Linked DNA regions of Homo sapiens. The protein of the gene in region 1 purifies or fractionates together with the protein of each later gene. This does not show direct contact. Each region holds a gene or a part of one and is shown in the gene's direction. Other genes may lie near its edges. The genes, in order: RILPL1, RAB12 and RAB10.

Region 1 (9,793 bases):
GGTGTGGGGACGGCTGTCAGATGGTCCCTCCCAGAGACACAGGAGAGGCAAGGCCCTGACCTGCTATGAAAGGCAGGACCCGAGCTGTCTGAGGAGGAAGGGACTGGAGGGAGCTTGGGGTTCGGGTCCATAGCAGGGGCCACTGCTGCCTGCAGGGTCCAGGCAGGAGAAGGAGAAAGGGGATGGAAAAGGGAGCAGCTGCTGCTCGGAAACAGCCCAGCGTTGCCAGTGGGGCCTGATCTTCCAGCGCACTTTCCACAGGAAGCCCAAAATGCAAACTTCAATATGAAATCTCCTAATCTTAAAGAGTTCGCAGCTAATTCAACAGAGTTTTAGAACACAGTGAAGGCCAAACAAAATGTGGGCCAGCAGCACTGGGATGGTCTAAGAGCTTAGTTTGCAACCTCTGATCTATACTACTAATGCCCAGAGTTCCTGGTGAACTCCTACATATTCGTCAAGACCCCATGCATAGAGACCACATCTGATTAACATCTTCCCTGATTCTCTCCAGTTAGATCTTGTGTCTGTGCACTATTTTTTTTTTTTTTAAGATGGAGTCTTACTCTGTCGCTCTGTCGCCCAGGCTGGAGTACAGTGGCACCGTGTCAGCTCACTGTAACCTCCATCTCCTGGGTTCAAGCAATTCTCCTGCCTCAGCCTCCCGAGCAGCTGGGATTACAGGTGCCCACCACCATGCCTGACTAATTTTTGTGTTTTTTAGTAGAGACGGGGTTTCACCATGTTGGCCAGGCTGGTCTCGATCTCCTGACTTCGTGATCCACCCACCTCAGCTTCCCAAAGTGCTGAGATTACAGGCGTGAGCCACTGTGCCTGGCCGCCCAGCTAATTTTTGTATTTTCAGTAGAGATAGCGTTTCACCATGTTGTCCAGGCTGGTCTCGAACTCCTGACTTCAGGTGATCCGCCTGCCTCAGCCTCCCAAAGTACTGGGATTACAGGTGTGAGCCACCACACCTGGCCTTAAGCTTCTATTTATGTGTATCTTCTCTTCAGCCCCATCTGTCTGACTCTGTTCCCAGGGCTGAGCTCCACGGCCAGCAAGGCACAAAGTTAGCTCTCAGTAAATGTTGGATAACTAGACATCCAGGGTTGCTCCTTGGTGAAGCTGGGCCAGGGAAAGAGGAGAACTGGCGCGATTGAATGCCGGCCGCATATCCGTCACCTGTTGTATGTGGTCTTGGGTGGAGACATGGAGTGTGTGGCTGCCGGGTGGTTCCGGAGCATCCCTGGAGGCGCTGCAGAGGAGATCGGACATTGAAGATGTCCTCTGAGGACACAGCCCACCTAAATTGTGGCATCAGCAGACGCCTAGAATACTTTCTTTGGAAATTAAATCCTCCAACATTTCCTCCCCTTGTTCTTGGGTGGGAAGAAGCCCCTCAGCTGCCCAGACAGCTTGCGAGGGCGGCCGGGGTCAGATTTCAGTTTCCCACTGCATGGAGGCCCCTCCTCTGCTGCCCCGTGCTGACTCCGACCCCAAGGCTGGGCAGGGTCAGCTTGCTCCCCCAACCTGGGCCTGCTGTGTGTGGCTCTGCTGTCACCTGACGTGCCCCAGCAGTGGGTGTTGTCTCCTTTCACACGTCCTTTCCCAGAACAGCCGGTTCCAGCCTCCCACAGGGTGTGAAGCCTCTCGGCTCTGCCTTCTGGAATCCCTCAGCCTCCTGTCCAGGGCACATTCAGGCTGGAGTTAGTCCCCTTCTCCCTGTGCTGCTATGGGGTTTTTCTTCTTCTTCTTCTTTTTTTTTTTTTTTTTTTGAGACAGGGTCTCACTTTGTTGGAGACACTGCCTTAAGTGCAGTGGCACAGTCTTGGCTCACTGCAGCCTCCACTTCCTGGGCTCAGGTGATCCTCATGCCTCAGCCTCCTATGTAACTGGGACTACAGGGGCAAGCCACCATGCCCAGTTAATTTTCTTTTCTTTTTTGTAGACATGAGGTCTTGCTATGTTGCCCGGGCTGGTCTGAATCTCCTGGGTTCTAGTGATCCTCCTGCCTCAGCCTCCCAAAGTGCTAGAATTAGGAGTGTGAGCCACGGTGCCGGGCCTATGGAGTTTTTCTTGAGGTTGGGAAGGACGTCTGTTTCCTCTCCCTTTCCCTGTTCTGGAGCTTTTTCACTGCTGTCCTGACCTCTGTCTACTCCTGGTTGGTCACGGGACATTGGTGGCTCAGGAGTGTTGGGGACACTCCATTCCTTTGAGAGTGTGGGCTACCTGTAGATTGACTGGCTGACTTGCAAAAGCTTCCTTGTGATTAAGAAAAAAAAGGAAAATAACTGTTGGCAAGAATATAGAGAAATTGGAACCCTTGTGCATTGCTGGTGGGAATGTAAAATAGAGCAGCTGCCGTGGGAAACGGTTTGACAACTCCTCAACAAGTTAAACACAGAATTAGCCCATGACCCAGCAATCCCACTCCCAGGTATACAACCAGAAGAACTGAAAACAAGTGTCCACACTAATACAGTTCTTAGCATTGCTATTCACATTAGCCAAAGAGTGGAAACCACTCTGATGTCCGTCAGCTGAAGAATGGATAAACACACTGTGGTACATCTGTACAGTGGAATATGGCTCAGCCATCAAAAGGAGTGAAGTGAGCTGGCGGGGTGGCCCACCCCTGTAATCCCAGCACTTTGGGAGGCTGAGGTGGGTGGATCACCTGAGGACGGGAGTTCAAGACCAGCCTGACCAACATGGTAAAACCCCGTCTCTACAAAAATACAAAACTTAGCCCGGGCATGATGGCGGGTGCCTGTATTCCCAGCTAGCTACTCGGGAGGCTGAGGCGGAAGAATCGCTTGAACCCAGGAGGCAGAGGTTGAAGTGAGCTGAGATCGTGCCATTGCACTCCAGCCTGGGTGACAGAGTGAGATGCCATCTCAAAAAAAAAAAGAGTGAAGTGCTGGTGTGTGCTGCAACGTGGATGAACCTTGGAAACACCGTGCTAAGTGAAAGGAGCCAGGCACAAAAGGCCACTTAATGTATGATTCTGTTTCTGGGAAATGTCCATGGTAGGCAGTCCATAGACAGAAACTACATTGGCATTTGCCAAGGGCTCAGGATAGGGAAGTAGAGAGTGACTGCTTAATAAGTACAGGTTTTCAGCCGGGTGCGGTGGCTCACACCTGTAATCCCAGCACTTTGGGAGGCAAAGGCGGGTGGATCACTTGAGGTCAGGAGTTCAAGACCAGTCTGGCCAACATGGTGAAACCCTGTCTCTACTAAAAATACAAAAATTAGCCAGGCATAATGGCAGGCGCCTGTAATCCCAGGTACTCAGGAGGCTGAGGCAGGAGGATGGCTTGAACCCGGGTGGTGGAGTTTGCAGTGAGCTGAGATCGTGCCACTGCACTCCAGCCTGGGTGACAGAGAGATTCCGTCTCAAAAAAAAAAAAATTGCCGGGTGTGGCGGTACACACCTGTAATCCCAGCTACTCGGGAGGCTGAGGCACAAGAATCGCTTGAAGCCAAGGAGTGGAGGTTGCAGTGAGCTGAGATCATGCCATTGCACTCCAGCCTGGGTGACAGTGAAACTCCATCTCAGAAAAAAATAAAATAATAAGTATGGGTTTTCCTTTTGGTATGAAGAAAATGTTCTAGAACTGGACAGAGGTGGTGGTTGTGTGACATGTGAGTTTACTAAATGTCACTTCCAAATTGTTCACTTTTAAAAGGTTCAAATGGTAAATTTTAGATGATGTATATTTTACCACATTTTTCTAAAAAGGCTCCCTCGCTATGCAAGAAGGTGAGAGGATGGGTGTGGGTGTGACCTGGGGCAGGTGACTTAGCATGATGCTGGGATCTGTTGGTCACCCGCATCACAGAGAAATGGCCGAGTGTGCACCCCCGCCGGGCTTCCACTGAACTCCAGATACTCAAAGCCACTGGGGAGGAGAGGACCTAACCAGAAGGCCCATAACAACAGGGAAAATGGATATGACTTACTGTCAAATGAAAAAGGAATGGAGAATTGTGTGTAGGCTGAGATTCCAGCCACTCTGGCCAAATTAGCAATGGTCTTAGTAAGGAGATGAAAGGAGGCCTGGAAAGGGGGAAGCAGCAGATGTACGAGGGTGGGGGCAGGGGAGGTGTGACAGCTCCTCCCTGGATGCCTTGTCATGTTTGTAATGAAACCCCAAGTCGGGTGGGGAGGTGCGGGGTCCGTGGGTTCGGCTATTGGGAAGGCGAACAATGAACAGGTGGCTGCTGGCTTCCACCTCCAGAGGGAAACTGTACAGAACGTGAGCAAGGGCCGCCTGCGAGTGCTGAAAATAGCACCCTCCACAGGCTGCTGGCACCCCGGGAGGGGGAGAATTTGGGCTCCTTCAGGATAGAGAGTGGGTGCTGGCAGTGGCTGCCAAGAATTCATTAGCAGCATCTCTGCCTCCTCCAGACGGAGCCGGTGGGAGAGGAGAGCATCTCCGACGCAGAGAAGGTGGCCATGGATCTCAAGGACCCCAACCGCCCCCGGTTCACCCTGCAGGAGCTGCGGGACGTGCTGCACGAGAGGAACGAGCTCAAGTCCAAGGTGTTCTTGCTGCAGGAGGAGCTGGCTTACTATAAGAGGCAAGTGTCCCTGGGGCTGGATGGCCCGAGCTGGCTCCTTACTGAGGTTAGCCAGAGTTTCTGTACAGTTACCTTCTTACCCCCTGGAAGACAAGCATTTCATCAGTGTTTTTTTTGGGTACCCTCTCTGGCCTAAAGAACTTACATACAAGCTCACAACCCCTTTCTGAAACTCTTGGGCCCAGGCCGGGCACCAGAGCTCACACCTTTAATTCCAGTATTTTGGGAGGCCGAGGCGGGAAGATTGCTTGATCCCAGGCATTCGAGACTAGCCTGGGCAACAAAGCGAGACCTCATCTCTTTTTTTAAATGAATGAATGAATGAAACCCGGCCCCGGTGTTAATGGTCTATGTGGCCCTTTTCACCTCCTACATTATCCTGTTCACTCTCATGCTTGCTTTATTGTAGGTTTCCACATGAGACCACAAGCAACATGAGACCAGAAGTCTTATTTATCTTGTCCATGGCTAAGTTCCCAGCACTTAGAATGGAGCTTGGCACACAGTAGGTGCACAACAAATATCTGTTGAATAGAAAGCTGGAAGGAAGGACCCATGCACCAGAGGTGGTCCCTGCTCCAGTGGGGAAGATAAGAGATGCATAAAAAATATAATACCACACATTTTTATTGAAAGGTTTACTGACTGTATACTGGATGTTCAAAGATGGGAGAGGCCGGGCGCGGTGGCTCATGCCTGTCATCCCAGCACTTTGCGAGGCCGAGGCAGGCGGATCACTTGAACCCAGGACTCGAAACCAGCCTGGGCAACATAGTGGGACCCCCATCTCTACACAAAAATTTTTAAAAATTAGCCAGGTATGGTGGCTCACCCTGTAGTCCCAGCCACTTGGGAGGCTGAAGCAGGAGGATCATTTCAGCCCAAGGTCAAGGCTGCAGTGAGCTATGTATGTTTGTACCACTGCACTCGAGCCTGGGCAACAGAATGAGACCCTGTCTCAAAAAAAAAAAAAAAAAAAAAAGATGGGAGAGTGGGAGAGATCACTTCTTCGAGTTTGTGGATGGGGTGGAAATCGGAAGGCCTCCTGGAGGAAGCAGCATTTGAACTGGGCCTTCCTGAAAGGATAGGGTAGTATTTAGATATGGGAGATGTTGAGGAGTGACAGGTATATTCTGGGTAGAAGAAACCACAGAGGTGTAGCGACAGGGAAGCCTGTGTAAGGACAGGAAACGGGGAGTGGTTCTATTTGGCTGGACTCTTCAGAATAAACTGGAAATACAGATGCGGGTCCCCTAAAAAGCATGCACCCTCTCAGACCATCAGACACTTCTCTTCTGGAATGTTCCAGTTCTCAAGGAACTTTTGACTCTTTTATCTCACGCCTCTCATCTCCTTCCAGTGAAGAAATGGAAGAGGAAAACCGAATACCCCAACCCCCACCCATCGCCCACCCGAGGACGTCCCCCCAGCCGGAGTCGGGCATCAAGCGACTGTAAGTGATGCGCTGCCAGCTTCTGCGCTCGGCTGACCTGGCGGTTCACGTGTCCTTTGACTTTTCCTCCTTGGCACCTGCTCCCAGGGCCAGGCTTGTGACTAACCACATCCTGCTGAGACGTCTGGCCTGGCCCCCGACTTTGAGTTCATCTCCCTTCCTGAATGCTGAGTCCCTCCTGGGGGTCTCTGGGCAGAGAGGTTTGGGGAGTGCGGGAGGCGAGAGGGGAGAGGCTTGGGCCAGTGGCTGATACTCAGGAGCTTGCTGGAGTGTGTTTCATGGGGGTGGGGTGCATCTCTGGGCCTTTGAGGACAGGAAATAAGGGTAGCGAGGTAGGGGTGGGTTGTGCATCTGAAGCTTGAGACCTCAGCTCTGAGATGTCAGGTGGCCCTGGGTCCACCCCATCTATGCAGTTCTCTGATGACTCATCCATGTAGCCCTCTGTCCATTAAGCAGGGGTTACTGCATAACGCATGCAGAGTCAGGCCTTGGTTGCTGCAGGAGAACCCCGCAAAAAAGAGTGACCTAGTCCCTGCCCTCAACTAGACTTTAAGCTACTTCAGTGGTTCTTGGCATCAACAGATTCCTTTGAGGTTGTGATAAAACCTCCTGAAATTTCCCCCAGAGAAATCTGTAAAATTTGTGAACAATTTCAGGAGGTTCATGGACCTCTAAGACTCTTCAGATAAAGGGTTAACACCTCTGGTTTTGTTAGACAGTATCTACTAAGAAGCTAACACGTGCTGGGTCCTGTTCCCACAGAATATCTCATTGAGTCCTCAGCATGGTGTTGTGGGGTGGAAGCATCATCATTCCCATTTTATAGTTAAGGAAACAGAGGCACCTGCCTAGGGTCATTCAGCTAATAAGAGGCAGAACCAGGGCTCAAACCCAGGTAGCCTGGCCCCAGAGCCCACACTGTGAGCTCTCTGCAAGACAGCCTTGTGCTTGCAGTGTTGGAGCTGCATTCTCTCCCCTGAGACGGTCTTCCAGGCTCTGGGCCTGCCTTCCAGTTCTATCCAAGGCTTAGTACAGAAGAGGTTTCAGTTCTTTCCTCCAAAACCCACAAGAAACTTTGTGAAAACAGGGCGTGTGGGTTGGAAAGCCAGTCGGATCGTGTAGGGAGAGGAAGTGGAGTGTTACCCATATACCCCAACCTTTAAAATCCAGTTATGTTTGGAAATTCTTGGTTAGTTCTTGCCCTGTGAGTAGACAATGCAGAGCCGTGCAGGTTTGTCACTGCTGGGCCCTCTCCTCTTAGAAAATGGTGCCCTTGGGGCTGGGTGCGGTAGCTCACACCTGTAATCTCAGCATTTTGGGAGGCAGAGGTGGGAGGATCACTTGAGCTCAGGAGTTCAAGACCAACCTGGGCAACATGGTGAAACCACCTCTCTACAAAAAATACAAAAATTAGCTGGGTATGGTCCCAGCTACTTGGGAGGCTGAAGTGGGAGGATTGTTTGAGCCCAGGAGGTTGAGGCTTCAGTGAGCCAAGATTGTACCACTGCACTCCAGCTAGGGTGACAGAGCGAAACCCTGTCTCGAAAAAAAAAAAAAAAGAGAGAGAGAGAGGGATAAAAAAGAAAGAAAGAAAATGATGCCCTTTGCTGGGCATGGCAGCTCACATCTGTAATCCCAGCACTCTGAAAGGCCAAGGCAGAAGGATCACTTGAGGCCAGGAGTTTGAGACCAACCTGGGCCACGTAGTGAGACTCTGTCTCTACAAAAAAATTTAAAATTAGCCGGATATTGCTAGAGAGTACAGGCTGGTGCACGACTCCCTTCCAGCTTCATTCAGGCTGCTTAGGAGTTTGGCCCCAGGTCCCTGATGCACTGGGGAGGGAGTGTGGCCCCAGTTCTGGTTAGAGATAAACATTTCCTAGGGAAGACGCATGGCACCAGAAAAGCTTCCTCTAGATCCCAACACCATTTAGATCATGGATTCAGTAGTAACCTTCCATTTGCAATTGAAACTCAACTCAAAGTAACCTAAGAAAACGAATTTGGAGGCCAGGCGCAGTAGCTCACGCCTGTAATCCCAGCACTTTGGGAGGTCTAGGTGGGTGGATCATGAGGTCAGAAGTTCAAGACCAACCTGGCCAACATGGTGAAACCTCATTTCTACTAAAACTACAAAAATTAGCTGGGCGTGGTGGTCACATGCCTGTAGTCCCAGCTACTCAGGAGGCTGAGGCAGGAAAATTGCTTGAACCCGGGAGGCAGAGGTTGCAGTGAGCTGAGATTGTGCCATTGTACTCCAGCCTCTGAGCGACAGAGCGAGACTCCATCTCAAAAAAGAAAAAAGAAAACAAAACAAATTTGGGGCTGGGCTCGGTGGCTCAGGCTTGTAATCCCAGCACTTTGGGAGGCCGAGGCGAGTGGATCAGCTGAGGTCGGGAGTTTGAGACCAGCCTGACCAATACGGAGAAACCCCATCTCCACTAAAAATACAAAAATCAGCCGGGCGTGGTGGCACACACCTGTAATCCCAGCTACTTGGGAGGCTGAGGCAGGAGAATCGCTTGAACCTGGGAGACAGAGGTTGCAGTGAGCCAAGATCGTGCCATTGCACTCCAGTTTGGGCAACAAGAGTGAAACTCCGCCTCAAAAAAAAAAAAAAGAAAACAAATTTGGCTAAGGAACTAAAAGTTCCAACTTGCCACAGCGTGGGGCTCAGCTGGATCCAGGCCTTGTTTCCTCCACCCCTGGCTTGGTTTTCCTCTGTGGGCTCCATTCTTGGGTGTCCAGTCCAGCCTGAGGATGGCAGCATGGCAGCCCTTGGCTCAGGTTTCATTTTCTTTCTTTCTTTTTTTTTTTTTTTGAGAGGGAGTCTCACTCCATTGCCGAGGCTGGAGTGCAGTGGCACAATCTCAGCTCACTGCAGCCTCCACCTCCCGGGTTCAAGCAGTTCTCTCCTGTCTCAGCCTCCCGAGTAGCTGGGATTAGAGGCATCTGCCTCTACGCCCGGCTAAGTTTTGTAATTTTAGTAGAGACGGAGTTTCACCATGTTGGCCAGGCTGGTCTCTAACTCCTGACTTCAGGTGATCCACCCGCCTCGGCCTCCCAAAGTGCTGGGATTACAGGCGTGAGCCACCGCGCCCGGCCAGGTTTCATTTTCTTCTGTCTGAAACTCCAGTGCAGAGTCTCTGTTCCCAAGATTTCCATCAGTCACAGAAATGAGTCCCATTGGCTCCAGCTGGGTCACATGACTATCCCTAACCCAATCACAGGACAGCACATTGATCGTCCGGGTCTGTGACTCCTCACCCTTGACGCTCAGAGCACTTTTACCTCCATCCAGTTCAAGTGGCCTGAAAGTAGGGGAAGGGATGGGTCCCCAAGCAATATCAGAGTGCTAGATAGACAGAAATACGGGGTGCCCACGGTAGCCTCACGTTGGGAGGAGGAAGCCCTTCAGTCTTGATTCTCTGCAGTACTTAGTGCCCAGGAAGGGTTTCTCATGCAGTGCTTGGTAGGAAATGGGACTGGCTTTGCTTAAACTCCAACTCACTCGCCAGCCCCACTCCTATGTGAGGATGAGCAGAATCTATCTTGTATGCTTTGATAGCTACAGCTTTGAGTTTCAGGCCTGGAGAAACTGCAAGAAGCTTCATGAGCCCAGATAGTCTCTGCATGGGCTGAGGGAGGGGGAGATCAAGAGACTTGTGTTCTGCATCCTTCAGCCATTTGTTCCCAGGTCGTTAAGAATTAGCCTTTCAGGCCGGGCACGGTGGCTCAACCTGTAATCCC
Region 2 (9,793 bases), on another chromosome or scaffold:
ATGCTCACCAGCTTGGTTACCTTAGGCAGTCTACCAGCTTCCCTGACTTCTGTTTTTTCATCTATAAAATATAGACAGTAATATATACCTCATAATATTGTTAATGAATATACACTGCAATAAGTTAATGTAGATAAGGCCCTTAGAATATTATCTGAAATATAGCAAACACCACAAAAGTTCTTAATCTTTTCATTTGTGAAGAGAACATACACCTTTCTGTGGAATTCTCATACGTGTGTACACTTCCATGAGAGGAACTGTCCACTCACTCTGCTGGGCTCCAGCCACGCCTCTCCTTGGAGGCCCAGGACCTCCAACTGTCCCTCTGTCCTCCCCTCCCTGATGCAGTCCGTGGTGTCATTGTTTGTTCCAGTCAAGTGCAAGGCTGTCTCCTTGTGCTTCTGTGTACAGGGTGGGCTTTATTTGCTGGGTGGGAGCGTGCCAACCCTGGAGTGCAAGCGAGGACAGGTCTTCTTGTACCTGGATGCAATTTGACATCCTCAGGCCTGGATAAGCATTTTTTTAATGACGCATAGTAACATTAGGATTTTAATAGTACCTGCTTCTGAGTTGATCAAAATATTTTATAGTTATAGTACTTAGTTTCTATTTAAATCCTTACCACACAGGTTAGATAGGAAAAGCCAGATAATATTAAATAGTAGGATGTCACAAGACAGGTCTACTAGCAGTGAGTTTGCATCCCCTTTTCCTCTTTTTTTTTTTTCTTTGAGACAGAGCCTTGCTCTGTCCCCCAGGCTGGAGTACAGTGGCGCGATATTGGCTCACTGCAAGCTCCGCCTCCCGGGTTCACGCCGTTCTCCTGCCTCAGCCTCCCGAGCAGCTGGGACCACAGGCACCCACCACCACCACACCTGGCTAATTTTTTGTGTTTTTGGTAGAGACGAGGTTTCACCGTGTTAGCCAGAATGGTCTTGATCTCCTGATCTCGTGATCCACCCGCCTTGGCCTCCCAAAGTGCTGGGATTACAGGTGTGAGCCACCGTGCTCAGCCACATTCTCTTTTCCTTATATGGGACGAGAATTCATTTTGAACTCTTCCCCGGTAGGTGGTAGAGTTTGGGCAGAAGACTGGCCTTATGCCCACATGACTTGATTTTAATGCTAGATTTGCCTCTCTCTGTAACCTTAACATGTTCCTTAATTTATTTTCTCACAACTCACTGAAAATGCTTACAATCCAATCCCTTAGTAGAATATTATATCCAATTTAACATTATGTAAGATACATCCTTGGAAGAACAGCCACTATATAAAACTTAAGGTCATTATTATAAATTGGCAGTGACAACTACTGTTTGTATTGAGACTTACTTCCAAGTCTATGGAAATTCTTCAACTTCTTGAAAGTATTAAGTAAAATCTATGGTCTGGTCCAAACTCCAGATCTTTGGTGGAACGAGGAGAAGTGACCTGGGCATGGAAGAAGAGGGCACAGTCCGCTTGGCCGTAGTCCTAGATGTGGACCACAGTGGTGGTTAGGCTTTTTACTGGAAAGGAGTGTAAAGAAAGAAGTTTCCGTGTGTTTTTGCCATTTTCACTTTTGTAACTTCTTATGGCCCAGCAAAAAGAAACAGTAGTGTGCAAATGTTTCGCTTTAAGGGGAACATAGAAATCTTACAAGCACTAAGTCCAGGGATTCCTCCCGCTGTTGCTAGACATGTGAAAGACAGCCAGCAAGAAGGCAGAGCGCAGAGTCAGGCCTTGTCTTAACAGCTTGGCTGTGGGAGCTATGAGCCACTTCAGAACATCTCACGCTTTTCTCTCTTTTCACCCATCTGACTTTTATTATAATAACCTTTCATTGTGGGCAGTGGTGTAAATTTGAGTCTTGGTTCTGCTGCTTCTCTGTCATGTGGTATGACTGTAGGCAAATTACCCTGTCCTCTCTCTGCTCATCATGTTGTCTTCCTTTATAAAATGGGGGTAATAGTTTCCCCGTCACTGGGCTGCTGTGAGGCTTGGATATGTTGGGTATTAGACATGGAGTATTTGACAGATGTCCACTGTCATTAGTACTAAAGGAAATTAAGGTCAAGAATAAGACACCGGCACAGTTGCTCATGCCTATAAACCCAGCACTTGGAGAGGCTGAGGTAGGAGGATCGCTTGAGTTTGAGACCAGCCTGGGCAACATAGTGAGATGCTATCTCTACAAAAACCAAAATCAGTTAGTGACAGTGGTGTGCTTCTGTAGACTCAGGTACTCGGGAGGCTGAGGTGGGAGGATCACCCAGGAGTTGGAGGCTGCAGTGAGCTATATAGGATCCTGCCACTGCACTCCAGCCTGGGTGACAAAGCCTTCTTTTTTTTTTCTTCTTCTTTTTTTTTTTTTTTTTTTTTGCTTCAAAAAAAAAAAAAGACTGACTTAAACAGAGCAGTCTAAGACCTTTGATAATACTGTATCTCTGTAGCCTGCGTGCTTTTAGAAAGCATTGTTAAAATACTTTTAGAAAGACTTCCACAAAACTGGTAAGCCTAAAGAAAAGCAAGCTCCTCTCACCAGACTAATTCACCTGGTAGACCAGTTCTGTATCTAAGGGACTGAATGGAGAAACTGTTACCGTAATCCTCTGAGATTAGTGTGTGTAGGGAGAGGCTGTGAGCAAGGATGTCTGCCCCATCCTGTGAGGAACTGTAGGAGAAATGAGAGGTTGTGTTGCTGCACACACTCATATTTCCCCTGTGTCCTGGGCACCCCTGCGTTCACTGCTTCCATTCCACACCTGCTACTCAGATGCCTTTTTTTTTTTAACTAATCAGTCCTGAATTTCCCTATTTTTTCCCAAAAATAATTTGCATTTCTTCTTACATATACAGCATTTGATGGAGAAGAGGGAGCAGTTTCCAGCCATCAAATTTATTGAGTTGCTGTTGTGTGCCAGGCAGTGTCCTAGACTTTAGGGGGCTGAAGATGACTACATCCTCGGAGGGCAGGCACGTAGCCTGTCGGGGAGGCCAGCAAAGAAGGAACGATGTGATATGGGCTAGAAGAGAGTTCAGGGCCAAGAACTGGAACATAGATAAAGACAAGGGTAAAGGTGGGTGCAGTCAGAAGAGGTCAGATGGGAAATCTAGGGCTTCAGAGGGTTCTGGGCAGACAAGGAGTTTCTCTAAGAAGAGAGAACAGCAAAGACAGATGCTTTGCCAAGTGCATGGTGTGTTAATTTAGGTCAGTATGACTGAGGTTTTCAAAGGCAGGGACTGTCCCCATCAACAGTGGTGGGGGCTCGTTGCTTCCTCCCTTAGTCAAGATAACCTGTAGGAAACCGGTTTTCAACAGGGTTGTAGACAGTAGTGAAGTCGCCACCCTCTTTGTCCCTTGGTTGTTTGTAAACATTTCCTCTTCTGTAACAGGAACTCTGTTGACTTTTCCTAAATCATCTGCCAGATATTTGAGGTTATTCATGACTTTTTTCCTTTTATTGAGGATCATTATCACTTCTATGACATCCCAGTATTAAAAATAGACAACATTAAGGGATATTTTTGACTTTTAATATAAGAAAGTTTTTAGAAATGTTTAGTCATGTACTTTGATAGAGGTATATGTTTCTAAGCCAAAAATTGGATTAAGTTTCCAGTCATTGCAGGCTACTTAATGTCTGTTAGATGTGGTATAGGTATAGGATATTTTGTTTAAGAGCGAGGACTGTTTTAAGGAACTGGTTTTACTCATGGAACCGTAGATCTGGCCACTGGGTATTTTTCTGTTGTGTTGTTAATTGTCATTCATCTACTCACTATAAGATAGTCTTCATTTTGGCTAAACAGATTCTTTTTTTCTTTTGTTTTTTTCCTTTCCAGCTTTTATTTTAGGGTCAGGGGGTACATGTGCAGGTTTGTTACATGGGTGAATTGCGTGTCATGGGGGTTTGGTGTACAGATGGTTTTGTCACCCAGGCAGTGAGCATAGGACCTGATAGGTAGTTTTTCAGTCCTCTCCTTCCTCCTACCCATCACCCTCAGGTAGGCCCCAGTGTCTGTTCCCTTCTTTTTGTCTGAGTACTCAATGCTAAAACAGGTTCTTAGCCCTATTTACTGTCGGGTAATCTTTGCTTTGTTTTCCTATTAGAACTAATAATGTGTTTATAATTACATAGTGATAATGTTACCACTTATTTCCTGATTTTGAATATTAATGTCCTAGCCTTTTATTTTTATTCATTAAATGTTGTGATTACAAAATAGTCCTAGTGTAGGACTGCTGGAGTTCGGTAAGTTGTTCAAGTTGGTTGGGAAAGGCAGTCTGACATATTCAGACTCCATTGTTAGCAGAGAAAACTGTAGTCAAAACAAAGATTATCTGCTCTAGCTGTTTCAGGGACTCTTAGTCAATTTGAAGCAGAGCTCAAAAGAAATATCATCTGCCAGTTATTTTCAATAAAGTCGCAGCCACTGCCACAAGGTTTACAAAAGTTACAGCTCCTTTAATTACATTTTAAAAACTAACTTACTTGAAGAAATTGGAAACAAAAGTAAAATAGAATATTGGGGAACCTGCCCCGTTAGTCACGTAGGTTCTTTTCTATTTTCCCTAAGCGTCGGCCGGTTTGAGAAATAAAGGGACAGAGTACAAAAGAGAGAAATTTTAAAGCTGGGCATCCAGGGGAGACGTCACATGTCGGTAGGTTCCGTGATGCCCCACAAGCCACAAAACCAGCAAGTTTTTATTAGGGATTTTCAAAAGGGGAGGGAGTGTGTGAACAGGTGTGGGTCACAGACATCAAATACTTCACAAGGTAATAGACTATCACAAGGCAAGTGGAGGCAGGGCAAGATCACAGGACCAGGGCGAAATTAAAATTGCTAATGAAGTTTCAGGCACCATTGTCATTGATAACATCTTATCAGGAGACAGGGTTTTGAGAGCAACCGGTCTGACCCAAATTTATTAGGTGGGAATTTCCTCTTCCTAATAAGCCTGGGAGCACTACGGGAGACTGGGGTCTATTCCACCCCTACAGCCTTGACCATAGAAGACGGCCACGCCCAGGGCCCCCCGCCACCCCGTAGACCTACCCCCAGGCGAGTATTCTCTTTCCCAGGGATGTTCCTTGCTGAGAAAAAGAATTCAGCGATATTTCTCCCATTTGCTTTTGAAAGAGGAGAAATATGGCTCTGTTCCGCCCGGCTCACCAGCTGTCAGAGTTTAAGGTGATCTCTCTTGTTCCCTGAACATTGCTGTTATCCTGTTCTTTTTCAAGGTGCCCAGATTTCATGTTGTTTAAACACACATGCTCTACAATTTGTGCAGTTAACACAATTATCACATGGTCCTGAGGCAACATACATCCTCCTCGGCTTACAAGATGACAGGATTAAGAGATTAAAGTAAAGACAGGCATAGGAAATCACAAGGGTATTGATTGGGGAAGTGATAAGTGTCGATGGAATCTTCACAATTTATGTTTAGAGATTGCAGTAAAGACAGGCATAAGAAATTATAAAAGTATTAATTTGGGGAACTAATAAATGTCCATGAAATCTTCACAATCCACGTTCTTCTGCCATGGCTTCAGCTGGTCCCTCCGTTTGGGGTCCCTGACTTCCCGCAACAATAGAATAGTAGTCATCACAGATTATGCATTTGATTAGTAAATTCCATCACAGAGTAGCATGGCAGCAGTGAAATCCTAACTCTACATTAATATGAAGACAGTGTTTTGTCATTAAACTGTGCTGCTTTAAACCAGATAGCAAATATCTGCGCTATTTTGTGCGTCTTGTGTAGTGTCACTTGAAATTGCAGTTTCCTTGCAGCTGAGTGTTAAGCCACTGTCTTCAAGTTCTCCATCATGCAGAACCTGCTTCCTGGGTCAAGGCAGTGTCTGAGCTTCCTTTGACTTTGGAAAGCAAATCATTTCCAGAACTGAAAGTGAAATTGAATTAAGTAGCTTTCCTTCAGGGACATCTGAAATTATGTGTTATGTGAGAGGTTAAGAATTGACATGGAGTAGTGCTCTCTAGCTTTGTTTTCTTGTGACATTTTATATTCATGCAACTTCTCTCCTAGGGCAGGAGGGCTGCCTCCCTGGCCACACCCTGCCCCAGGGCTGTAAACATGCCTTTTGTGTGGCATTGGTGTCCACAGTGTTACTAATTATAAAAATCGGTCACATGTCTTCCACTTCCCCTCAAGAGCCTCATCTGACTGCAGCACCTCATTGGTGCCCAGAGACGGGCAGTCAGGGGCATGGCCAGGGCCTTGCCCTCTGCAGCCACCATACCACTCACAAACATGGGCACCTGCTGGCCCGGGGAGCTGGGATCGTCTACACCCTGGGTCCCAAGGAAGCTGTCAGGAAGTCGTTCCTGTAGGGAAGGTGCCTCTAATTCTAAATTCAGCCAGCATCCCTTTTGTTTCCCTTAGTTATGAAAATTGTGTAATAAAATATTGTTGTGAAATATTTACATTTTGTATAACTGGAAGGCATATAAGGTAGCATACACAAATGAAAACTTGGTTTTAAAAATATATCTGAAGCTTTACAGGCTAAATTGAAAAGGAAATATACATGATGGTTTGCTTAGTAATATTAAAATGAATAAAAATTAAAGTTGGGTATGTTAATTTGTGTAAGAGTAAATTTTAAAATCTTCTCACTGTTGATCATATAATGTTATGTTTATATTTACCTAAAATTTTCATGAGTACTGAAATTTTTAGTACAATAATTTCTAAATTCAGACTAAGGCTATTTGACTAAAGTTGATTAAGTTTGATTAAGTTTCCAGTGTTCCATATAAGAATTTTCCCTGAGAAAACATCCTTTTAAAGCCACTTATTTGTTGATGTAGTTATTAAATGTAATTTTAAACTGGTTTCTATGCTGAACTGTGGTAGTTATAAGTTGTGTTATGAACAGCAAATACTAGACCGATCACTCAGGATAAGACATAACATGGGCTGACCTTCCCAGTGTGGACTGAAGCGTGAGAGATGGGAGGTTATAGACACTGGTGCAGATACTGCTTTTCCTTGGAATTAAGTGATGTCAGGTTTCGTGGGGTTTTCTTTTTTTCTGATAATGATAACAAAATACACAAATAGGATTATTTTGTATGACAAATTGCATCTTTGTTGTTTTTGCTTCACATTTATTTGTTTTATTTACAGGTGTTGACTTCAAAATCAAAACTGTAGAGCTAAGAGGAAAGAAAATTAGATTACAGATCTGGTAAGTGGGAGAGTGTGCACCCAGTAATGTGCTGTGTGTGTTTAACAGTCCATGTACTTGTCTAATAAAATGAACTGTTTGAGCTGATTTGCCTCTCCTACTTTCTCCTCTTTTGCTCATTTTAAAATTAAATGGACAGTGTTTCCATCAAGAGAGAGAATTTAGATAAGGCTGTTATGTTATATGCCACTTGCACATGGGGAGCAGTTGTGGACAGAAGAATGTTACTTTAATGGTAGCTAGTTTGGAACCTTTTTGCCTCTATTTTCAAATTATTTACGTGATATCAAAACTGTCTCCACTAAAATGATTGCTCAAATGTTTGTCTTCATGTCTTTATTTTGTATGATAGTATTCAAAGAAAGCCCAATATGTTCATAACCAGATTTGCACAATCTGAAGGCAGGTCCCCTGCAGACAGTTCCAGAGCTTCTTGGTGGCACAATGTGACTATTACTGCGGGTGGGCATACTCCTTCCGGCTGTACTGCTGATTCCACGGGATGTGAGCCCCCACTAATGCCTACTAGAAATGAATCCAGGCCCCTTTCTCAAATCACAATTGGAATGAGAGACTCAACCAGCTGTGTTATAACTGCACTCAGCACTAAGAGCTTTCTGTTAGCTATTAACCTGTTAACAGCCCGCAGGTGCTAGCGACCTGTCTGTGGAAGAAGGGATAAGATCTGGTCTGGTGGTCTGGCGGTGGCTTAAAAGTAGCCCCATTGAGGTGCTCTGAGAATGCCGTTTTGTTTTGAATGCTACAGCTGCGGTGTACTCAGCTTACTAACTCCTCTTGGCAGGTCACCCTCAGCTCTGATTGTTTGTCCACCATGTGTGTGTTTGCTTTCATCTGCGTTAATTGCTGCTTCATCTGTGGCATCATCGGTCACCTAATGCTTGAATGTTAGTGCCATGTCTTCATTCTTCATCCGTGTCCCTGTCTGGGCCGCAGCTGCAGCCAAGCCGCAGTGCCTGCCTTCTGGAGGTGTCTGAGGTAATATCTTCATTTGGTCACCCTTCACTGTATAACACACTTCTAAGATTTTTTGATTTGGGTTTTTGTTCGTTTTCTTTTCTGTTGTGCATTTGGTCTGCATATTTTCATTTTTGGCTTGATTATGAAACATTAGGTCTTGTCTAAATACTTGAATAAACAACAAATAGATATTTCTTCCTGTGCTAGTCCCGCAGACTTTTTGTGCATTGCTGCCCAGCTTTTAAACGCTGGAAATGGCAACAAAGTGTTTGGCACACAAGCTGCTGTTTCTAATTATAAGCTCTATAAGGTAAAGACCATCTTCACAAGGATTTGGGATATGCCTCTCTCTGTTCCTAGTACCTGTGTGAGGTACTTTCTGATGAGAATATTGCCCCACAAAAGTGATGTAAACATTATTAGAATGTGTGACGCCTGCCTTGGTGACAGCCATGCCTGATGACTGTGGCACATGTCTTAATTAATGCATTAATACTTCCATCTTCATCTTTGGCGGCAGTATTCTTTATAAAGTATGTCCAAATGATTTATAAAGTATGTCCAAATGTCCTGGTGCCTCCCTGGAGCTCTGCCCACTAAGTCTATGCTGGTGACATTGTACACTCCTGGAATCTGACTACAATGTCCTTGACTCTGAGATAAGAGGGCCCTACCTGATGGAATCCCCCTCGGGGAGAAAGTGAGATACTGTGGCTCCACGAAGAGCAGCGGGCACTCAGAAACCATTTTTCTCTTGTATATGAAAGCATTCTCCAAATGACCCCTCTCCCTCTCCTGATTCTCCCTTGACTCTTTACTACTTTTTCATTCTCTAAATCTGTGCAGCTGTACAGCATGGGCAAAGAGCGTAACTAAGGGAGGAAGAATGAAATGGATTGGACTTACGGAATGGTTGATTGCAAGTTTTCTACATGGAATATTCCAGTGACTCTTTTCCTGCAGGAAGGTTTTGAACAGTGACTCATATATCTACTACAGGCCAGCCATTTTGTTGATCACATAATACTCAAAATAAGATTTTTATCTTCTGAAATATTTTATTTAAAAGATGAAAACCTTTTCCTTCATTATTGCTATGCAGCAGGTAAAAAGGAAGTGTTAGAATCATGATTGTAATTTGTATTACTGTTTTAAAGTAATGCGTGGCTTCTTTAGGAGTGAGGCACAGCCCTTGTGCTGCTGCTGGTGTAACCTGCTTTGTTGTGGGCGTGTTGTCGTCGTTTCACTCTCATCCATTGAGGGCATAGAAGGCGCCTGTGTAGCTGGAAACGGTCCCTCAAGGAGGCGCAGTGGATTGTGCTATGCTAATAATAGATAGCTCTGCTCCGATTTTCTAGACTGGCATGAAAGCATTGCCATTCGGTTTTCATAGGAGGATCTTGTTGGAAGAAGTGCATTATTTACTATAGATTCCTAAAAGCTAAAAGTACCAAAAGCTGCAGGTGTCTGTTACATTTTTACGTCACGTTTTATGTCATTGCCACATATTTCAGTTTGTTGATTACCTGTGGTCAGAAAAAGGACCATTTTTCTCTTCTCTGTACTTTAAAGTATTTCTACATGAATGTTAGAACTTTATGTAAGTAGCT
Region 3 (10,593 bases), on another chromosome or scaffold:
CCTCGAACTCCTGACCTTGTGATCTGCCTACCTCGGCCTCCCAAAGTGCTGGGATTACAGGCGTGAGCCACCGCACCCGGCTTTGTTTTTTTGTTTTTTTTTTTTTTTTGAGACAGGGTCTTGCTCTGTTGCCCAATCTGGAGTACAGTGGCGGGATCTTGGCTCACTGCAACCTTGACTTTCCAGGCTCAAGCAATCCTCCTGCTTCAGCCCCCTAAGTAGCTGGGACTACAGGCATGTGCCACCATGCCTGGTAGGGCAATTATTTTCTAACAAGAGGAGGCCTAAGTCAAGATATGCAGGCAGAGCAGAATACTGACGGGCTGCCAGCCACTAGGCAATCAGTACTTAGCATCAGGAAAGTCTAACCAAGATCTATCCTCATGAAGTCCCTGCAGGAAGACTGTGGGTGTGAACACAGGAAATAAGCAGTAGTAAATACACAAAGTCCTGGAGACTGGAGGGGAAGGTTTTATAGCAAGGTGATGACGTAGCAGTCGGCTGGCCCTTCAAGGGAAGACTCGATTCTCTCTCTTTTTTTTTTTTTTTTTTTTTTTGAGACGGAGTTTCCCTCTTTTTGCCCAGGCTGGAATGCAATGGTACGATCTCGGTTCACTGCAACCTCCGCCTCCTGGGTTCAGGCAATTCTCCTGCCTCAGCCTCTCGAGTAGCTGGGATTACAGGCATGCACCACCATGCCTGGCTAATTTTGTATTTTTTAGTAGAGACAGGGTTTCTCCATGTTGGCCAGGCTAGGCTGGAACTCCCGACCTCAGGTGATCCGCCTGCCTCAGCCTGGCCAAGTGCTGGGATTACAGGCGTGAGCCATCACGCCCGGCCTGGAAGACTCAATTCTTATGAAGAACACGGAGAGCAAGTTGGGGAGGGATAAAAGAGTAAGAAATCAGGTATAGAGACTGAATATGCATGGGAACAGTGGTAAAGATGATCCTGCCTCAATATCTTTTGAGGCAGGAGTTTTTTATAAGGTAGAGGCAGGTCCTAAAAGCTTAAGTTGAAGACTAGAACCATGAACTGGTCAACTATGCTTTTTCTAGAAAAATATAGAGATAATACCTTAATTGATAGTATAAACATATAAATATACCTCTTTTTTCTTGGCTTTGCAAATATTTGGACTACTACTTTCTCTTTTCCTCCCTCCCTCCTTTATTTATTTATTTACTTATTTTATTTATTTATTTTTTTGAGACAGAGTTTCGCTCTGTTGCCCAGGCTGGATTGCAGTGGCACGATCTCGGCTCACTGCAAGCTCCGCCTCCTGGGTTCACGCCATTCTCCTGCCTCAGCCTCCCGAGTAGCTGGGACTACAGACGCCCACCACCATGCCCGGCTAATTTTTTGTATTTTTAGTAGAGACGGGGTTTCACTGTGTTAGCCAGGATGGTGTTGATCTCCTGACCTCGTGATCCACTTGCCTCGGCCTCCCAAAGTGCTGCGATTACAGGTGTTAGCCACCGCGCCCAGCCTCCCATTTATTTATTTATTTTTTATTTTTATTTTTATTTATTTATTTATTTATTTTGGTTTTGAACCTTTAATGAGAAAAAAATATATAATATCGAGCTCAAGAACACTGTGTGTTTGGTGTCATTGGGTCAAGGGTTGGGGATACACACGGCAGAATTCGGAAACGGTATATGTCAACAAAAATACACACAATCATAACAAGAAAAACTGGCGCCTGGCACAATCAACTCTCAGTTTCCTCTTCACTCAGCAGCATGTTGGGGATCCCGCGGCTGATGGGGAACATACGTCCAGATTCCGGGCACTGCAGGGTGCCCTCTATCACTTCCACCTCCAGCAGCAGGTGGTGCATGGTCCTCAGAAACTCTTCATTCTCCTCATATCCCTCAACTGGCCCTTTAGGCATCTGGATCAGGCGCAAGCTATCGGCCGCCTCCAGGAACGCCGACCACTCCACCTTAGGTATCATATGTACCACGTATGATACGTGCCACGTATGATGCCACATAAATTGGGGGTTGAACTCCACAGGGCAGATACGGACCTCGGTGGCCTGGAGGCACAGGGGGAAGCCACGGGACCCCATCCCCCGCACATGCGAGCTCAGCAGATTGTGGGTGAGCAGTTTCATGTCGCCACACAACTATTTTTTATTTTTTGAGACGGAGTCTCACTCTGTCGCCCAGGCTGGAGTGCAGTGGCGTGATCTCAGCTCACTACAACCTCTGCTTCCCGGGTTCAAGCGATTCTGCTGCCTCAGCCTCCTGAGTAGCTGGGACTACAGGCGCACGCTACCAGGCCCAGCTAATTTTTATATTTTTAGTAGAGACAGGGTTTCACCATGTTGACAAGGATGGTCTCGATCTCTTGACCTCGTGATCCACCCGCCTCAGCCTCCCAAAGTGCTGGGATTACAGGCGTGAGCTACTGTGCCCAGTCTATTTATTTTTTTGACAGTGTGTCTCACTCTGTTGCTCACGCTGTAGTGCAGTGGCAGGATCATGGCTCACTGCAGCCTCAGCCTCCCAGGCTCAAGCAATCCTCCCACCTCAGCCTTCCGGAGTAGCTGGGATCACAGGAACTCATCACCATGTCAGGCTAATTTTTTCTTACTTTTTTTAGAGATGGGGCTTCACCATGTTACCTAGGCTGGTCTGGAACTCCTAGACTCAAGCTCTCTGCCTACCTTGGCCTCCTAAAGTGCTGGGATTACAGGCATGAGCCTCTGCGCCTGGCCTGGACTACATTTTTTGTTGTTGTTGTTGTTGAGATGGAGTCTCGTTCTGTCACTCAGCCTGGAGTGCAGTGGTGCGATCTCGACTCACTGCAACCTCGGCCTCCCAGGCTCAAGCGAGTCTCCTGCCTCAGCCTCCCAAGTAGCTGGAATTATAGGTACCTGCCACCATGCCTGGCTAATTTTTGTGTTTTTAGTAGAGATGGGGTTTCACCAAGTTGGCCAGGCTGGTCTCAAACTCCTAATCAAGTGATCCACCCGCCTGGGCCTCTCAAAGTGCTGGGATTACAGGCATGAGCCACTGCACCTGGCCTCTGGACTACATTCTTTATAGAGCAATTTTGAAAAAAGCATAACCCCTAAACTAGCAGTAGATTGGCATTTTTTTCACTGTTTCCACTTTTATGAAATATTTCTTCATAACTCTAGGTTTATCCTTTAGGCCTGTGTAGATCCCCATTTTACTCTTCTTTTCTAGAGTCAGAGATCTTCCATACCTTGATCACTTCTGCTTGCTTCACTGGCAGATATAGCTTGATGCTTAGGCCTCACTCCAGCAAAACCTTTAATTAACTTTAGAGAATCCAAATGCTAAGTACTGGCCGAGCCTCTCAATCCTCGCAATTCTCACCTTGAGGTAATACGGTGTCCTGTGGAGGTTTTCTTCTCTTTTCCCTTGCCCGTATAGTCCAGGCTCTGCACTAACAGTGTGACCTCTGGGAAGGCCCTAACTTCTCTGAATCTCAGACTCCTCATCTGTGAGTTACGTGCAGGGGTCAAATTATGATTTAAAATATATGGTGGGGCATGTTGGCTCGCACTTGTAATCCCAGCATTTTGGGAGGCCAAGGCTGGCAGATTGTTTGAGCCTAGGAGTTCAAGACCAGCCTGGGCAACATGGCAAAACCCCATCTCCACAAAAAATATAAAAATTAGCTGGGCGTAATGGTGCACATCCATAGTCTCAGGGACTTGGGAGGCTGAAGTGGGAGGACTGCTTGAGCCCAAGAGGCTGAGGCTGCAGTGAGCCATGATCGTTCCACTGCACTGCAGCTTGGGCGACAGAGTGAGAACCTGCCTCAAAAAAAAAAAAAAAAAAAAAAAAGGTATCCTGGCGGGGCACAGTGGCTCACGCCTATAATTCCAGCACTTTGGGAGGCCAAGGAGGGCAAATCACTTGAGGTTAGGAGTTCAAGACTATCCTGGTCAGGGATGGTGGCTCACGCCCTAGTTAAAGGCTTATGCTTTTTTCAGAATTGCTCTATAAAGAATGTAGTCCAGGGGCTGGGCGCGGTGGCTCATTCCTGTAATCCCAGCACTTTGGGAGGCTGAGGAGGGCGGATCACTTGAGGTCAGGGGTCTAAGAGCAGCCTTGCCAACATGATGAAACCCCATCTCTACTAAAAATACAAAACTCAAGACAGGCGTGGTGGCGGTGCCTGTAATACCAGCTACTTGGGAGGCTGAGGCAGGAGTTTCACTTGAACCAGGAGGCAGAAGTTGCAGTGAACCAAGACTGTGCCACTGCACTCCAGTCTGGGTGAAAGAGTGAGATTCTATCTCAAAAAAAAAAAAGTCTATGATCGATAATTTGTTAATAAATGTAATAATTCCTAAAGTTTCAGAATATGAGTTCATGGGGAAAGGTTTCTAAGTGATAAAATTGTTGGTTACAGGATAAAAAATAAAGTGAAAAAATCTTTTTTACTTATATTTGTACATATTAATGGAAGTACATGTGATTTTTGATACATGCATACTGTGTGTAATGATCAAATCATTACAAATGAGGTTACCCATCACCTCAAACATTTATCATTTGTGTTGGGTTTTTCAGATTTTTCAACTGTCCATTATCCCCAAAATTTACGTAGTGGTATTACTCTCCAAATTAGGCTTTTTTTTTTGAGATGGAGTCTTGCTCTGTCACCAGGCTAGAATGCAGTGGTGCAATCTTGGCTCACTGCAACCTCCGACTCCCTGGTTTAAGCAATTCTCCTGCCTCAGCCTCCTGAGTAGCTGGGACTACAGGTGCATGCCACCATGCTCAGCTAATTAATGTATTTTTAGTAGAGATGGGGTCTCACCATGTTGGCCAAGATGGTCTCGATCTCTTGACCTCAAACGATCCACCCACCTCGGTCTCCCAAAGTGCTGGGATTACAGGTGAGAGCCACTAGGCCCGGCCCAAATTAGGCCTTCTACAGGAAAAAGTCTTGGCTGGGCCTGTTGGCTCACACCTGTAATCCCAGCACCTTAGGAAGCCAAGGTGGGAGGATCGCTTGAGGCCAGGAGTTTGAGGTTGCAGTGAGGCCTCCACACTCCAGTGTGGGAAACAAGCAAGACCCTGTCTTAAAAACAAACAAAACCTTTAACACTTCATTTTTTCACAGATGGAGTCCACTCTGTTGTCCAGGCTGGTCTCAATCTCCTGGGGTCAAGCAATCCTCCCTCCTCAGCCTCCTGAATAGCTGGGACTACAGGTTCAGTCACTGTGCCCAGCTTAAAAACTTTCAAGACTTTTAAAATACTTTGTAACATTGAGGCTTGAGTTAATCTAACTTATTTTGAAAGGAATAATCAAGGTAACAAGATTTTCCTTCTGACGCTGAATTGACGACACACCTGTGCTGCACTGACCATCACTCACTTTGTGATTTGCATAGCTAGTCTATTTTAGAATTGTTATTATCATAAGGCATTCCCGACTACAGTCAGAATGATTCATAGAGGATAAGAAGGTTTAAGTGAGGCCAGGCGCAGTGGCTCTCACCTGTAATCCCAGCACTTTGGGAGGCTGAGGCGGATGGATCATCTGAGGTCAGGAGTTCAAGACCAGCCTGGCCAACATGGTGAAACCCCGTCTCTACTAAAAATATAAAAATTAGCCAGGCTTGGTGGCACACGCCTGTAATCCCAGCTACTAAGGAGGCTGAGGCAGGAGAATCACTTGAACCCGGAAGGGCTGCAGTAAGCCGAGATTGTGCCACTGCACTCCAGCATGGGTGGTAGAGTGAGAGTCTGTCTCAAAAAAAAAAAATGTTTAAGTGACAAGACTAGGAGCAATTGGAGAAAACAACTGAAGAGAAAGCTGTATTAGTGAAGACAAGTATCTTCGGTAAGGACGCTTTAGGGGTGGTTGAGAAGAAAGGAAAAATGTAAGACAGAAATATAAGACAGAAATGTAAGACGGAATTGCCTGAAAGTCTAACTTTAATTACATATCAAATACACATTTTGGTGATTTGGCGATCTTGGGGTGGTGTGTGTGAAAATGTAGTTTTTACTTCTCTATCCCTGTTTCTTGTTTTCCACATACTTCAGCGTTTTCCACTTTATCAGGTTGAACCAGCTCACCAGGTTCAACTCCTGTGCCATCACACCTAGGTGTGCTTTGAGGGATGGATGTCCCTGAGAATGGAAGGTCAGCAGCATGCATACTGCAACTACAGAAGGGTAGGAGAGAAAAAGGGTGGCGTAAACAGGACTGATGGGGAGAGAGAACAGAAGGTAAAGCAAATGCAAAGAAAATGCGAGGGCCCGGGCGCGGGGGCTAACGCCTGTAATCCCAGCACTTTGGGAGGCCGGGGCGGGCGGGTCACCTGTCAGGTGTTCGACACCAGCCTGACTAACAGGGTGAAACCCCGTCTCTACTAAATACAAAAAATTAGCCGGGCGTGGTAGCACATGCCTGTAATCCCAGCTACTTGGGAGGCCGAGGCAGGAGAATCACTTGAACCCAGGTGGTGGAGGTTGCAGTGAGCAGAGATTGTGCCATTGCACTCTAGCCTGGGCAACAAGAGCGAAACTCCATCTCAAAAAAAAAAAAAAAAAGAAAGAAAAGAAAAAAAGAAAAAGAAAATGCGAGGAAACGAGCGAAACTCCATCTCAAAAAAAAAAAAAAAAAAAAGAAAGAAAAGAAAAAAAGAAAAAGAAAATGCGAGGAAGCAGGCTGTGTCGGACTGGGAGTAGGCTTGACCACCTTTCAATTTTCAACCCAGTGGTACGACGCTGGCGGCAGGCAGAGGCCCCACCTCCTCTGCAGAGCGCTCTCGGGTTCTCCCGGATTCCTGAAGGACGGCAAAGGCCTGAAGCAGGTTCTCTGAGCACCGCACAGAACCCTCCACTTCGCAGGGAGGTTCTTCCTGCGCCCAGGTGTTCCTCAACCTTCCTCTCCTCGCCCAGGAAGAGGTTGTGAGGATTACCTCATCCCAACCCGAGCGGCGTGGCCAGCTTTTCCATCTCAAACTCTTGCTCTTGAAGTCAATCCGGATGGAGCGCTCATGTTTCCCCGTCAGGGCTGGCCCTGGAGAGGGGGCACGCCGGGAGGCGTCTCGTTCTAGCAAAGAGGCTATTAAATGACCCAGGGCGCGGCTTTTTCTCGCGTTTACGAGCTCCACCTACACGGGAACACATGGCCACCCAAGCCCGTCGCTGCGCCAAGACCTCCAGCTCAACACACCCGACAAGCGCTGTGCAGAGAAACCGCAGCGCAGTCCAGCGGGAGACCCCGGGAGGGGAAGGAGGTGCTGGGCTCTGTAAGGGTGTCCCGGGGAGCGGGGAGCGGGAGGCGGGAGGCGGGGGTCGGAGGGGGGGCGCTGCGCCTGCGCAGTCGCTAGGTAGCGTCTCCCCCGGGGCGTGCTCGTAACGCCGCGCACCCTATCAGGCGGCCACAGGGAGCGCGCCCGCGGCCTCGCCCTTTCTCGCCCCTCCCTTCTCCCCTCTGGGTCCAGCCTCAGACTGAGGCTTGGAGACAGGAGCATTCCACTCGCCACTTCGGCGCGCCCCCATGCCCTCTTGTGCGCGTGCGCAGAGGCGGACCGCAAGGCTAGGGCGTGAGGGAAGGGCGGGCGTACGCCCTTGCGTGCGTCTCAGGCAGCGCGCACGCCGGCGTGAGAGGGCACGGGGAAAAGGTGGCTCTGGCCGGGGTGGCTCGGTTTCCTGGGGCTATGTAACTGAGCTCGTCGACTTAGGGGTCCTTCTTCGCTGCCCTCGCCGCGTGCTAGCAGGGAGTTTCCGCTCGGGAGAGAGACTGTCCTCACGCCCGCTGCGCCTCCTCGACGGCAGAGCAGGCTTGCTCGCCCGTGGGAGCGTCCCGGCCGAGAAGCCCTGAGGGGGGAGGGGAGGCCATTTTGTCCCGACCGACTCCCCGGAACCGGGCGGACGGGCTGGGAGAGGCTGCGGAGCCGCGGTCGCCGCCCTCGGAGGCACTGGACGCCGCCACTGTCGGGGCTTCCTCAAAGCTGTTCGTAGGTCGCCCGCGCCGTCTCGAGCCTTTTTCCCACGCTTCCCCGGTCCTCCGGCCTGAGAACGCCCGAGTGAGGAGTTGGCCGTAGTGAGAGGGACCGATCCCTTGGGGCCGCCGGCGGCGAGAGCCCGAGCCGCTCCTCCCAATGGCGAAGAAGACGTACGACCTGCTTTTCAAGCTGCTCCTGATCGGGGATTCCGGAGTGGGGAAGACCTGCGTCCTTTTTCGTTTTTCGGATGATGCCTTCAATACTACCTTTATTTCCACCATAGGTAAGACCTGTGGGAGGACGGTGTACGGTCTCGGTAGCTGCATACCGTTTATTTTACTCCAGACATCTTGCTTCCCGTAATATACGCCTTTGTTTCAGTGATTCCGATTCCAAACGACACATCCAAGTTACTGTTTGAATCGGCATCGAGCTTACTGGGGCGGGGTCTTCCCATGATTTCCATCCGGTCTTTTGCTTTCGAGTCTCCCACTATGCTCAGTGCCTTCTGTTACAAAATATGCATCATTTAACCATGTTCCAGAACCTTATTTCTTCAGGCGACTGGACTGGCTTTTTCCACATTTGCGTGGAATTAGTAGATGTGTGATATTTTTAAGGTATTTATTTCAGTGGTTGCGATTGAAGCAGTACTAGCTATTTGGGAAAGGCCTGAATTTATACTTTGGGGCAAAGAAAAGATTCCATATGGTGATAACTTAGAGTAAACTTGAGGGTTTCTGAGAAGAATAATTAAGGTAAATTAGAAGGGAAGAGTGAGTTGCCCTCATTCACTAATCCATTGATGTGTCAAACAATCGGAGGCTCTTCGCGCTTGGGGTGGGACTCTGGCATATTTGCCTCAGTGCTTTTCGAGACATCAACAGAAGCAGTAATCTGAGGGAGATGATCAGTTTCTGTCCTCAAACCCAACGGAGTGAAGTCAAGCTCTCTCTTCTATTTTATTTGACTCTAGTATTTACAGGAAAGTATTTTGCCAGTCATAGCCCTATGGACTTATAATGCACTTTCACCATGTTTCAGAATTACTTAGTGTGGAAGTAAGAGCTAAAGAGTGACCTTTTTAATCGAATTTCCCGTTTAGGAAAGGAAAAGGGAAGGCTCTAGGAAAGTCCCTTTTGAATCTGGTTAGAAAATTTAAGTGGCATTGACGCTAATTGTGCTATATTAATTGTGAAACCCATCCGCTCCGCAATAAATTTCTTAAAAGACACATGGCTCTCAGCATTGTGGCGGTGCAGTTGAACCCATTTTTAAATGTACTTTTATATTGAGAGGCTTTTAAAAAGCAACGGCAGTCGTCTTTGAACTCTGGGAATTGTCAAAATTAAGCTGATTTGAAACAGTTTGTATAGCGTAACTGAAATATTTGGTTTGGGTTTTCTTTTGTGACAAATACCTGCTTCATTCTCACAAAAGAAATTATACTGAAATTAAATTGGACAAGTGATTTTTTAAATAGATTTTTATTTTGCTTACCTTTTTTGGGAGGCAAATTATCATAATCCTTATTTCCAGAGTATCATACTGTTTTCTTGGTCTGTCATAAATTTCATGAAACTTAGAGCTTGTTCTCTAACTTGTGGGTTAGAGAATACTAGCACTTAGCGCTAGCACTTCCCTAGCACTGTTTGCTTTTAACACTCCACTTTTAGCTGTAGCTGGCTAGGGTTAGGTGATCAGATGGGTCAGCAAATATTTATTGAGCACCTAATGCTGGGCACTGTTTTTAGGCACTGGGAATAAATGATGAACACAACAGACCCCTTGAGGAGCATTCCGGTGAGATAATCATAATAGTGTGGAAGATGCTACAATAGTAAGCACAGGGAGGAAGAGTGGCTAGTCTAAATCGTGAGGAGTTTGAGTAGGCTTACGTGGAGATGATACCTAAAATGAAGTCTGGGCCGGGCGCGGTGGCTCATGCCTGTAATCCCAGCACTTTGGGAGGCCTTGGCGGGCGGATCACAAGGTCGGGAGGTCAAGACCAGTTTGGCCAATATGGTGAAACCCCGTTTTTACTAAAAATACAAAAATTAGCTGGGCGTAGTGGCAGGCACCTGTAGTCCCAGCTACTCAGGAGGCTGAGGCAGGAGAATCACTTGAACCTGGGAGGCGGAGGTTGCAGTGAGCTGAGATTGTGCCACTGCACTCCAGCCTGGGCAACAAAGCCAGACTCCGTCTCAAAATAATAATAAATAAATGAAGTCTGAAGGACTAATAGGAATAGAGTCAGAGGGGTAGGATAGGGCCTTTCTGGAAAAGGGAGCATAGAACAAATGTATAGTAAGGTTGAGGATTTAATTCATGTGGTCAACTTTATTTATTTATTTTGAGACTGAGCCTCACTCTGTGGCCCAGGCTGGAGTGCAGTGGCGTGATCTCGGCCCACTGCAACCTCCGCCTCAGGGGTTCAAGCAATTCTGCCTCAGCTTCCTGAGTAGCAGAGACTACAGGTGCCCACCACCACACCTGGCTAATTTCTGTATTTTTAGTAGAGATGGTTTCACCATGTTGGTCAGGCTGGTCTTGACCTCAAGCAATCCACCGCCCCAGCCTCCCAAAGTGCTGGGATTACAGGCGTGAGCCACCACGCCTGGCTGTGTGGTC

What was found.
Region 2: the proteins of RILPL1 (region 1) and RAB12 purify together in Homo sapiens (co-immunoprecipitation; 2 studies listed by IntAct). This does not show direct contact.
Region 3: the proteins of RILPL1 (region 1) and RAB10 purify together in Homo sapiens (co-immunoprecipitation; 3 studies listed by BioGRID and IntAct, with this or other methods). This does not show direct contact.

The regions. Positions count from the first base shown.
Region 1 is NC_000012.12:123,480,430-123,490,222, reverse strand, and holds part of RILPL1 (RILP-like protein 1), read left to right. Parts: intron 1-4,417; coding exon 4,418-4,590; intron 4,591-5,950; coding exon 5,951-6,043; intron 6,044-9,793. UniProt on the Homo sapiens protein: Plays a role in the regulation of cell shape and polarity. Plays a role in cellular protein transport, including protein transport away from primary cilia.
Region 2 is NC_000018.10:8,617,794-8,627,586, forward strand, and holds part of RAB12 (ras-related protein Rab-12), read left to right. Parts: intron 1-6,190; exon of another isoform or gene 6,191-6,220; coding exon of another isoform or gene 6,221-6,350; intron 6,351-7,144; coding exon 7,145-7,205; intron 7,206-8,007; exon of another isoform or gene 8,008-8,201; intron 8,202-9,029; exon of another isoform or gene 9,030-9,793. UniProt on the Homo sapiens protein: The small GTPases Rab are key regulators of intracellular membrane trafficking, from the formation of transport vesicles to their fusion with membranes.
Region 3 is NC_000002.12:26,026,491-26,037,083, forward strand, and holds the start of RAB10 (ras-related protein Rab-10), read left to right. Parts: upstream 1-7,593; 5' UTR 7,594-8,118; coding exon 8,119-8,245; intron 8,246-10,593. UniProt on the Homo sapiens protein: The small GTPases Rab are key regulators of intracellular membrane trafficking, from the formation of transport vesicles to their fusion with membranes.